Linked DNA regions of Homo sapiens: region 2 is linked to region 1. The links come from fine-mapping of genetic effects on gene expression. A gene starts in region 1. The other region holds a variant in brackets. All regions are shown on one strand. Distances are between the middles of the regions.

Region 1 (5,385 bases):
TCCTCATTCATTCCAAGGAATGTAACTGGAACATTCCTGCCTTTGTGCCTTTGTACTGGCTGTTCCCCCTTCCTGGAATGCTTTTATTCCCTTAGATATCTATATAGCTGACTCACCTACTTCAAGTCTTTACACAAATGTCACTTCAATAAGGCCTACTTTGTGAACACCCCCTTTAAACTTGTAAACCACTCCCATCCTCTAATACTCCCAATCCCCTTACATTGCTCGTCCTACTTTTTCCTTTTTCCAGTGTTTACCACATTCTAACATTGCCATAGAGTTTACCTGTTATGCTTATCTATTAACTATAACCTCAGCATTACAGCATAGGCTATTATTTACTGATATATCCTAAGAACACAAATACTGCAAGGCATGGAAGTACTTGCTGAATGAATACACAAATGACCACGCTCCCAGCTAAGCTTCCTTGCTGTGAGAATGAGCTCCCTGCACCCCAACCCTTAAACAGAGTAACAGCAAGGCCCCTGTTTGATATACCCCCACTGGAGGTCTCTCTTGGGCTTCCCAGTTCCCCAGGCCACTTGCTTACCTCTGTCTCAGGGACTGAGGGCACCCTCACAACCCGCTGGTTGACCTCCCGTAGGAAGGCATCAATCCGATCCTTCTTCTTCTCTGACAGCCTTACTTCCTTTAGTAGCTCCTCTACCTGTAAGAGAGGGTAGAAGACAGTCCATCAGCCTCAGGGTCCCAGGTACACACCTCGAACAAAAGCTGCAGACACTCAACAGTACCTGTAAACGAAGCAAGCTGGAGTGGAACAAGATCTCAGTCTCCCGAAGGCGATTAAGCTCCTCATTGGTAGGCTCCTTGTACAGTTCTGCCCTGCTGAGCTTCACTGGCTGCAGGAGGCCCTTCGCTGGAGGTTCAGCCAATGTACGCTTCCTGGAGGATGCTTTCTTCCCCTCTTTGCCTGTGCCTTCCAGGGCTGGTTCCATCACCTGTGGCCAGTGAGGGAGAAGCCATTTTGAGGTAATAGGTATCTAGCATCTGCTGCCTAAAGTGCCACCATGATAGGTTGTGGGTAAAAGCTTCACCTGCTCTGTCCCTCTTTTGAGTAGGAGTCAGATTTTGTAAAACTCAGGAGAATCGTTACTTGGATGAACATCACTGAGCGCTGAGCCGAAAATTCCTTGAGTTAAGAGCTCTCCTGTCTACCTGACACCACAAGCATGGAGCTCTGTTTGGAATTGGTAGTGATAGAAGCTGACTGGGCCCAGGCTGGACACGGTGGCTGACGCCTGTAATCCCAGCAGTTTGGGAGGTGGAGCTGGGCGGATCAGCTGAAGTCAGGAGTTCGAAATCAGCCTGGCCAACATGGGGAAACTCCGTCTCTATTAAAAATACAAAAATTAGCCAGGTGTGGTGGCACATGCCTGTAATCTCAGCTACGCGGGAGACTGAGGCAGGAAAATCACTTGAACCCAGGAGGCAGAGGCTGAAGTGAGCCGAGATCGTGCCATTGCATTCTAGCCTGGGCAACAGAGCAAGACTGTCAAAAAAAAAAAAAAAAAAAAGAAGCTGACTGAGCCCTGCCCTAAGTAATGCCCAGGCCCCTTGTATTTTCAGGAAGTTTCCTCTTCTGCTGATATAGGCCTGGGACTTCTCAAATGTCTTTCCCATTCTCGCTCCAACCAAATCCTGCCAGGTTCCACCTCCTCTAGGAAGACCTGACTGCCTCAGTTTACACTAAATACTCACTGATGGAAGGAGCTAGAACCGACTGGACCCCAGAGGACACATTTAGCAAGTCATTAAATCCTCAAAATAATTCTTGAAGACACTTGAAGTCCCACTATTCACTCGAGGTTCCACAACTGGTACACCCGTACTATGAGCAGGCTTCAAAGGCAAGCGTGCAGGATCCCAAACCTTTTCCCCTACAGCCGTGGGCCCATCCGCTCCACGATGCCTCTCATCCCAGAGAGCCTTACTGGAGCGCTCCAGGAGAGGCACCGTATGCCCTCCGCTACAGCGGGGAGCACAGAACTGGACACAAATTCTGTGGAGGAAGATCCCGCTTATCGTCAAGGACCACCAAATAAAAGAAACGACCCAAGTGTGGGTCTCTTCAACTTTGAGGTGCAGAGCTCCAGAAGAGAGCAGAGGCTCTACCGGCTTCACTGCTTCTAACCAAATACTGCCAGGTTCCATCACCCCTAGCAAGCCCTGTCTCAGTGCCACTGGCTGGAAACATCCTCCAGAATGGGCCGCCGGCATGGCTTTCACCCGCAAGCTGTCAGATCACGCCATCTCGGGCCCTGCAGCCAAGGGAGCGCACATTGAGCCTCTGTTCCTCCCCGATGGCTCAACCCACCTCTGGCTCTCCAGTCGCTCCGCGAAGCTGCTCTCCAGCTGGCGCCGGCCCCATCACTCAGGGTCCAGCACTCTCCCGCACTTCAGATTCTAGCCGGGTCTATACCTCATAGCTTCCCACGTGGGCGGAAATGCCTAACTCCAGGCCCAAGTCCAGCCCACCCCAATTCCTCAGGACTCCACCCACTCCAGAGCTATTGGATTATCAGTCGATTACTCGCTTGCCATTGGCCGGGCAGTCTCAAGGCCCGCCCATTAGGGGAGGGGACAAACGGGTTTCTGTGCTTTACGGCCTCTTCGCGACGCTAGAACGGAAGCCTGCCCGTAGCTAGGCCTTTGCTTTCTTTTCCTCACTTCCTTCGCGTGGCTGCAATCGGGAAGGGCGGAGCTAGTTTGTTCCTTTTGGTCAGGTTTGTTTACAGCAGTTATTCCTCCCTTTTTCTTTATTTGCTACACCTTATCAGTTAACAAATCTTGTCAGTTCTACCTCCAAAACATACCTTGAATTTATTCATTTTTCTGTGTCTTCACTGCCAGGTTTAGCCCGTCACATCATCTTGTTCCCGAATTATTGTTATGACTTTTCTCCAGTTTTTACTTATTACTTAGCTTATTACAATTTCAAGTAATTTAGTTATTTTTATTTATTTATTTATTTATTTATTTATTTATTTATTTATTTATTTTTGGAGTAGTCTTGCTCTGTCGCCCAGGCTGGAGTGCAGTGGCACGATCTCAGCTCCCTGCATCCTCCCTCTCCCAGGCTCAAGCGATTCTCGTGCCTCAGCCTCCTGAGGAGCTGGGATTACAGGCAGGTACCATCACACCCGTCTAATTTTTGTATTTTCACTAGAGATGGGGTTTCCTCATGTTGCCTAGGCTGGTCTCAAACTCCTGACTGCCAGTGACCCGCCCACCTTGGCCTCCCGAAATGCTGGGATTACAGGCCTGAGCCACTGCTCCCGGCCTATTTTTAAACTATTAAAAATTTAAAACAAATGTTGCAAGAATAATATAATGAATGCGCATATACTCTTCACCTAGATTCACTTAGTGTTACTATTTTGCCAAGTTTATCTTTACCTATGTATTTACATATTATTTTGCAAAACCATTTGAAAACCAATCACACATCTCCCTAAATACTTAGGTATGTATCTACTAAGATCAAGGACTACCTCTTATGTAAGCACAGCCCGATTATGAAATTAAGGAAATTTAATCGTGATTCAATACTAGTATACAAATTCCATCTTTAAATTTTGTCAGTTATTCCAGTAATAACCGTTATATGTTTCATTTTATTTCCTAATGCAGGATCATCTAAATTCAACTATTACCATATAATATATATATATATATATATATATATATATATATATATATTTTTTTTTTTTTTTTTTTTTTTTTTTTTTGAGAGAGAGTGAGTGTCCCTCTGTTGCCCAGGCTAGAGTGCAGTGGGTCGATCTCAGCTTACTGCAACATCCACCTCCTGGTTCAATTGATTATTGTGGCTCAGCTTCCCAAGTAGCTGGGATTACAGGCATGCGCCAACACACCAGGCCAATTTTTGTATTTTTAGTAGAGACAGAGTTTCACCATGATGGCCAGCCTGATCTCAAACTCTGGCCTCAAGTGATCTGCCCTCCTCAGTCTCCCAAAATGCTGGGATTACAGGGGTGAGCCACCGTGCCCAGTCTAAAAATTTGTATTGAAGTACAATATACATAAGGAAAAATGTACATATCCCAAGTGTAAAGCTTGAATACTAACAAACCAAACATACTCATATAGTCAGCTCCCAGAAAATAAGCAGAACATTTCCTGCACCTTCAGAATCTCCCCTCATGCTGCCCTCTAGTAACTCTGCCCCCAACAATCACTATTCTGACTTCAAACAGTGCAGGTCAGTTTATACAATAGCTTTTTTATTATTTATTATTTATTTATTTATTTATTTTTTGAGACAGAGTCTCACTCTGTCGCCCAGGCCGGAGTGCAGTGGCACGATCTCGGCTCACTGCAAGCTCCACCTCCCGGGTTCAAGTGATTCTCCTGCCTCAGCCTGCCAAGTAGCTGGGACTACAGGCGCCCGCCACCACGCCCGGCTAATTTTTTGTATTTTTTAGTAGAGACGGGGTTTCACCGTGTTAGCCAGGATGGTCTTGATCTCCTGACCTCATGATCCACCCGCCTTGGCCTCTGAAAGTGCTAGGATTACAGGCGTGAGCCACCGCGCCCGGCTATGCGATAGCTTTTTAAGGAAGTTTCAGAAGAGCGGTATGTCCATTTTCAATTCATTTTCCACACAGCTGCCAGAATTAGTTTTCTAAAATAGAAATTCTATCATGTCACTTCCTTTTAAAAACTCATCAGTGTCTTCCAATTGTACTTAAAACTAAACACAAACTTCAACTTCCATAAAGTCATGATCAATATGGCCCTTCACTTGCTATTCCTTCTTTTTATTTTATTTTATTTTTTTTTTTTTGCGACAGAGTCTTGCTCTGTCACCCAGGCTGGAGTGCAGAGGTGCAATCTTAGATCACTGCAACCTCCGCCTCCCAGATTCAAGCGATTCTCTTGCCTCAGCCTCCCTAGTAGAGTAGCTGGGACTACAGGCACATGCCACCACACCCGGCTAATTTTTGTATTTTTAGTAAAGACAAGGTTTCACCATGTTGGCTAGGCTGGTCTCAAACTCCTGACCTCAAGTGATCCGCTCACCTCAGCCTCCAAAAGTGCTGGGATTACAGGGGTGAGCCACCTTGCCCAGCTATTCCATCTTTTTTGTGGGAGAAGAGGGGCAAGTTCTCGCTCTGTTGCCTAGGCTAGAATACAGTGGTGGAATCACACCTCAGCCTCCTGAGTAATTGAGACTACACACGCGCACCACCATGCCTGGCTAATTTCTGTATTTCTGTGTAGACTTTTGCCATGTTGCCCAGGCTGGTTTCAAACTCCTGAGCGCAAGGAATCTGCCGGCCTCGGCCTTCGAAAATGCTGGGATTACAGGCATCGGCCACTGCCTGGCCCTCATCATTT
Region 2 (5,385 bases), 36 kb after region 1:
ACTTTGGGAGGCCGAGGCGGGTGGAACACGAGGTCAAGAGATCGAGACCATCCTGGCCAACATTGTGAAACCCCACCTCTACTAAAAATACAAAAATTAGCTGGGCATGGTGGCACACGCCTGTAGTCCCAGCCACTCGGGAGGCTGAGGCAGGAGAATCACTTGAACCCAGGAGGCGGAGGTTGCAGTGAGCCAAGATCACGCCACTGCACTCCAGCCTGGGTGACAGTGCGAGACTGTCTCAAAAAAAAAAATAAAATAAAATAAAGAAAAGAAAAAAACAAAGCCAGACTAAGTAGAGAGAGCATGTTAAGTGTTTCCATATAGTTTTTTACTTCTAATGGTAAGTTTATCTGTGGTTTAAATGCTAAAAGGCTAATTTAACCAATTTTAAGTGATCTCATATCTGCGATCAATATGAAATGTAATTACGGTGAGAAAAACAGGTATTGGGTTTCTGTAATTAACTTGAGATTAACATTAACAAAATTCAGCTTTGGTATTTAAGACAGAAATAGGTAAGTTTATAAAACCATAATTTAATACTTACTAATTTTTGTCCTCCTATAAAAGTTTCTAGAGCAGCAGCATAGTTTTTTAAATGGTATTCACATATCCTGCATGAACATATTTAAAACAAATTAACACACATACAAGATCTGGAAAATAGCCTTCTTTCTAAATGAAAACATCTTAGTATTTTCTATTGTTGAAAGAAAAAATTTATTTTTAAGTATATGTTAGTAAGCCAAGAGACTTTCTAAAATACTGTTAACATCTAGTACAATTTCCAGTAAAATTCAATTTTAGAACTTACTTCAGAAGGAATTTCACTTTAATTGTACATACCTGCTTATTCCAAAATACATACAAAGGAATTAAAGCAGTTTCTTACTTAAAGAATAAAGTTACACTTATCAACAGAAACAAGTTGGGATATAAAGCACATAGATACAGAGCTTTCACACCATTAAGCGTAGCCCATTCAGCTTGGTTGAAGAATAGGATGTCCTCTAGTCAGTTAAATATGGTAAATTCCAAATTTTAAATAAAAAAAGAATGTGAAATCCATCAGTTTCATCTATACCTTGCAGTTATTTCAATCATCGCTATTTTTAAATATATTAAGTATAGATCTCCATCACATACTATGGTTAACAAAATAATAGAACTATAACTTCATATTTAAAATTGAATCATATCTCTGCTATAAATACAGAATTTTACTACTTATAAAGCTTACACTGAACTCATTCAACAAATTACACATCTCCTATTTACAGTCCAAGCTCAACAAAAAGAGTAGCTATTGCATACCCTTTTCTCAGCACAGCAGTGGAATTATTTGGATTGAATTCGCGAGACTTCTTTGCATCAGCAACAGCAACTATGTAGAAAAAGATGCGTTTCTGGCTGGGCATGGCGGCTCACGCGTGTAATCCCAGCACTTTGGGAGGCCGAGGCAGGTGGATCACGAGGTCAAGAAATCGAGACCAGCCTGGCTAACACAGTGAAACCCCGTCTCTATGAAAAAAAAAATTAAAAATTAGCCGGATGCAGTGGCACGCGCCTGTAGTCCTAGCTACTCAGGAGGCTGAGGCAGGAGAATCGCTTGAACCTGGGAGGCAGAGGTTGCAGTGAGCCAAGACTGCGCCACTGTACTCCAGCCTGGGCAACAGAGTGAGACTCCGTCTCAAAAAAAAAAAAAGAAAGAAAGAAAAAGATGTTTTTTGTCAGTTATTTACAGATTCTAGCAAACACACACAGAATACTGATCAGTTTTAGATTTCCAAGTTTTCGAGTTAATAGAAACGCCAAATGGTTTTAAATTAGGAAAAGCTAATCCAACACAGAATTCAAATAAATATTACTCTTGTACCTTCCTTTTGGCTTAACATTTAGCTTTCTTCTTAAAGCTCTTCGGTCAGTGAATAAAGCTGTGTGACAAAATTCATCTCCTTTTCTCATTAGCATCACTTATGTAATTTGGCGGGGTGCAGTGGCTCCCGCCTGTAATCCCAGCACTCTGAGAGGCTGAGGTGGGTGGATCACCTGTGGTCAGGAGTTTGAGACCAGCCTGGCCAACATGGTGAAACCCCCTCTCTGCTAAAAATACAAAATTAGCCAGGCATAGTGGCATACACCTGTAGTCCCAGCTACCTGGGAGGCTGAAGCAGGAGAATCACTTGAACCTAGGAGGCAGAGGCTGCAGTGAGATGAGATTGTGCCACTGCACTCCAGCCTAGGCAATAAGAGCAAAACTCCATCTAAAAAAAAAAAGATATTCAGTTTTTCCCTATCCAGATTCTTCATCAGAATAATTTTTAAAGTTACACAGTACAGGAATACATTATTTTTTTAATATAGATAGGGTCTTGCTATGTTGTCCAGGCTAGACTCGAACTCTTGGGCTCATGTGATCCTCCCGCTTTGGCCTCCCAAAGTGCTGGGATTACAGGCGTGAGCCACCATGCCACATTCTTTTTTATAAAAAAATACAAAGAAGAGCATGTCATTTTAATACTCTGTTAAACAGTAAATGTGATACTATTCTTTATCAGCCTACTCAATAACTACGAATGAAACCTATATACATTATCCACCCACTGAACGAAAAAAGAGACATCCATAAAATTTAAATAGGTGTTGCTCAACATGTCTGTCACACTTGAGCTACTTTACCTTGTATGAAAGACCAACTCAAAAATCCTCAAAGACAACCTTTATTTTATTTGATTAATTGGTCATGGGTAAAATGTATAAGTAACTTATTAAAAAGGGGCAATATACTTTATAAGAAAAATTACCACAGTAATTCCCAAGAAGAATGTGACAATAAGCTCTTTGACGATAATATATGTGCATCATCTGGTTTCTGTTCCAAAGCCTTAGTCAGCTCCTACAAAAACAAACATGTTGAGTGTCAGTAAAAGTTTTTTAAAAGCCATCAAATAAATTCTAATTAAAACATCATTTTTAAACAAATAACTTATGATCAGAAACTACTTGGAGGAAAGATAACAGGGATGTAATCTTGGAGTTTTTCCTCGTAAGAGGATCTCCCCGGTTTCTCGCGGTCCTGCTAAAACGCTGTCAACCTAACGCTCCACCAGAGAGGCCCGTTGGCTTCTCGGGAGGCGACCGAGGGAGCTCAGGAGGCGGGGAGGCTTTTACAAGAAGCGAAAGGACGGCCTCAGGGGTGGCCGGGAACAGCCTGGAATCAGCTGGAGGACATCAGCAGGACTGAGGAAAGGGCCACCACCAGCGTGAGGAAAG[G/C]GGGGAGAGGGCAGAACGCGGCGAATGGCCGCGCTCGAGGGCTGGCGGGGTCCCAGCGAGCAGCGGCTGGGAAACAATGGCGCGAGCGTGACGTGGGCCGGAGGCGCCGCCGCGGCGCGGAGGAAGGGGCTGCCGTGGGACTGTAGAGTCTGTAGAGTCTTTTGGAATTTATGTGATTACAATCTTGCAGTCTGTGAATAGAGATGGTTTAACTTTCCTGTAATCTTTATACCTTTTAGTTTTGTTGCTGGCTAGTATGTCCACTATTGAATAGAAATAGTGATAATGGACTTCCTTGTCTTGGTTGTAAAATCAAGAGGAAAGCATTCAATATCAAGTGCTTTTTCTACCTTTATTGAAATGTTCATATGTATTTTTAATAATAATATGTTACTGTTATATAATAATAATTTTAAAATAATATTTTAATAATAATGTTACAATGTGACCAATTACATTGGTTAATTTTCAAATGTTATCTAAATGGCCGGTTGTCCTTCCGGATCCCCATTGATTCCGATTGGGATGACACTATAGGAGAGGCAGAACCAGTGAAGGAAACATAACGTTTATTCAGGAGTTACATACAGGGGTGGTCCAGTGGTGGTGGGCTGGCCTGGAGAAACGCTACCGTTTGTATAAAAAAAAAAAAGCATGTAGTCCATATAGCATATCGCATTTTCACTTAGAACCCTCCTTCTAGCAGTCTCCATTTAACCCAAAATAAAGGGCCTTGATCACCTGTACAGGCTGTGTTCCAAGGGATGGGGCAGGGGTATGGCTGTCCTTCATAGGTAAGTAGTGAATCTCAGTGTTGGCTACTCCTGGATTCCTTAGCCTGGGACTCCAAACACACTTAGAATAGGGTTATTCTCAGGTATGCTCCATTTATGGCTCAGCCATACACCAAGGTGTATACACCAACCCCTGCCATGCACCAATATGCATATAAATATGAATAGCCTCTGAAAGGGCAAATTCCTAGATTGACCTATAGGCCCACATGAAAAGTTCTATATTAATAGCTATGTCATGGCTGAGCACAGTGGCTCATGCCTGTAATCTCAACACTTTGGGAGGTCGAGGCGGGTGGATCCCTTGAGGCCAGGAGTTGGAGACCAGCCTGGGCAACATGACAAAACCCCATCTCTACTAAAAATACAAAAATTACCTGGGCTTGGTGGTGCACACCTATAATCCCAGCTACTAAGGAGGCCAAGGCACAGGAAACACTTGAACCTGGGAGGCAGAGGTTGCAGTGAGCGAGATGGCACCACTGCACTCCAGCCTGGGCAACAGAGTCAGACTCTGTCTCAAAAAAAAAAAAAAAATAGCTGTATCGTGGACATTGAAATTATAATGAGATAATAAAACTACCACCAGAATGACTTAAATTAAAAGGATTTCCAATACCAAGCATTGACAAGGATAGGAGCATTTTTTAGAGAGAATGACCAAGGAGTTGGCTACAGTCAGGTGCTGCAGAATCAGATCTGTGGACCTTAATGTGCATCTGGTGAAATAAATAACTATAATGGTGAAGAACAAAGCAATTGCCCAGGAATCCTACTGTGGTCTGAGATAAGAAGATCATTCCTATTGCCACATCCCTGGAGGCCATTTTTCTTTTTTCAATGACTGATCATCCTATTCAGAGTGAGAGGATCTGGCGTGAAAACAAGAGGCCTGTTGTACTATGGCAACTGAAAGCCACTCTTTTCCATGTACCATTGTTTTCAAGCCATTAATTTCCTATTAAACTTCATTTTCCTCTTCCTGAGAGTTTCGCTATAAAAATATATGTGTGTATAGATATATATTCCCAGCATAAGAGTGCTGTAACAGTGTTTTACATAGAACTTTTACAACAATTCTTTGAAGTGCTTTATTGTTCCCATTTGACAGGTGAGGTGATTTCGGGCACAGGAAGGCTGAATGACATTTCCAAAGTCACCTCCTTGTAAGAGGCAGTGTCAGAAGCTGACAATGGACTTGACCACTATGCTGTCATAGCAACAGAGAGAAATAATTTTTAAGACAATCCATGTATTTAAAAAATATTTTTGTATCTCTTGTGAGTTTTTAAAAGAATCGTTTTGAATTTTTTCT

What was found. PIP is the estimated chance that this variant, and not a neighbour inherited with it, causes the effect.
Region 2: its variant is fine-mapped to the expression of NOL6 in gastroesophageal junction (GTEx, PIP 0.95). The same link has a PIP of 0.9 or more in esophagus muscle.

What each region holds. Positions count from the first base shown.
Region 1 is chr9:33,471,448-33,476,832 of GRCh38, forward strand. NOL6 (nucleolar protein 6) reads right to left here and starts at 2,477. Exons shown (of 26, transcript NM_022917.5): 1 at 2,342-2,477; 2 at 759-965; 3 at 557-673. The coding sequence starts at 2,395. LOC107987061 (a long non-coding RNA gene) reads left to right here and starts at 2,693. Exons shown (of 3, transcript XR_001746648.3): 1 at 2,693-2,750. RefSeq lists an enhancer at 2,089-2,428.
Region 2 is chr9:33,507,813-33,513,197 of GRCh38, forward strand. It overlaps the pseudogene SUGT1P1 and the pseudogene VN1R47P. Among named protein-coding and RNA genes, the nearest start is that of ANKRD18B, 14 kb to the right of the region's middle. The variant G/C (reference allele first, on the strand shown) is at 3,277.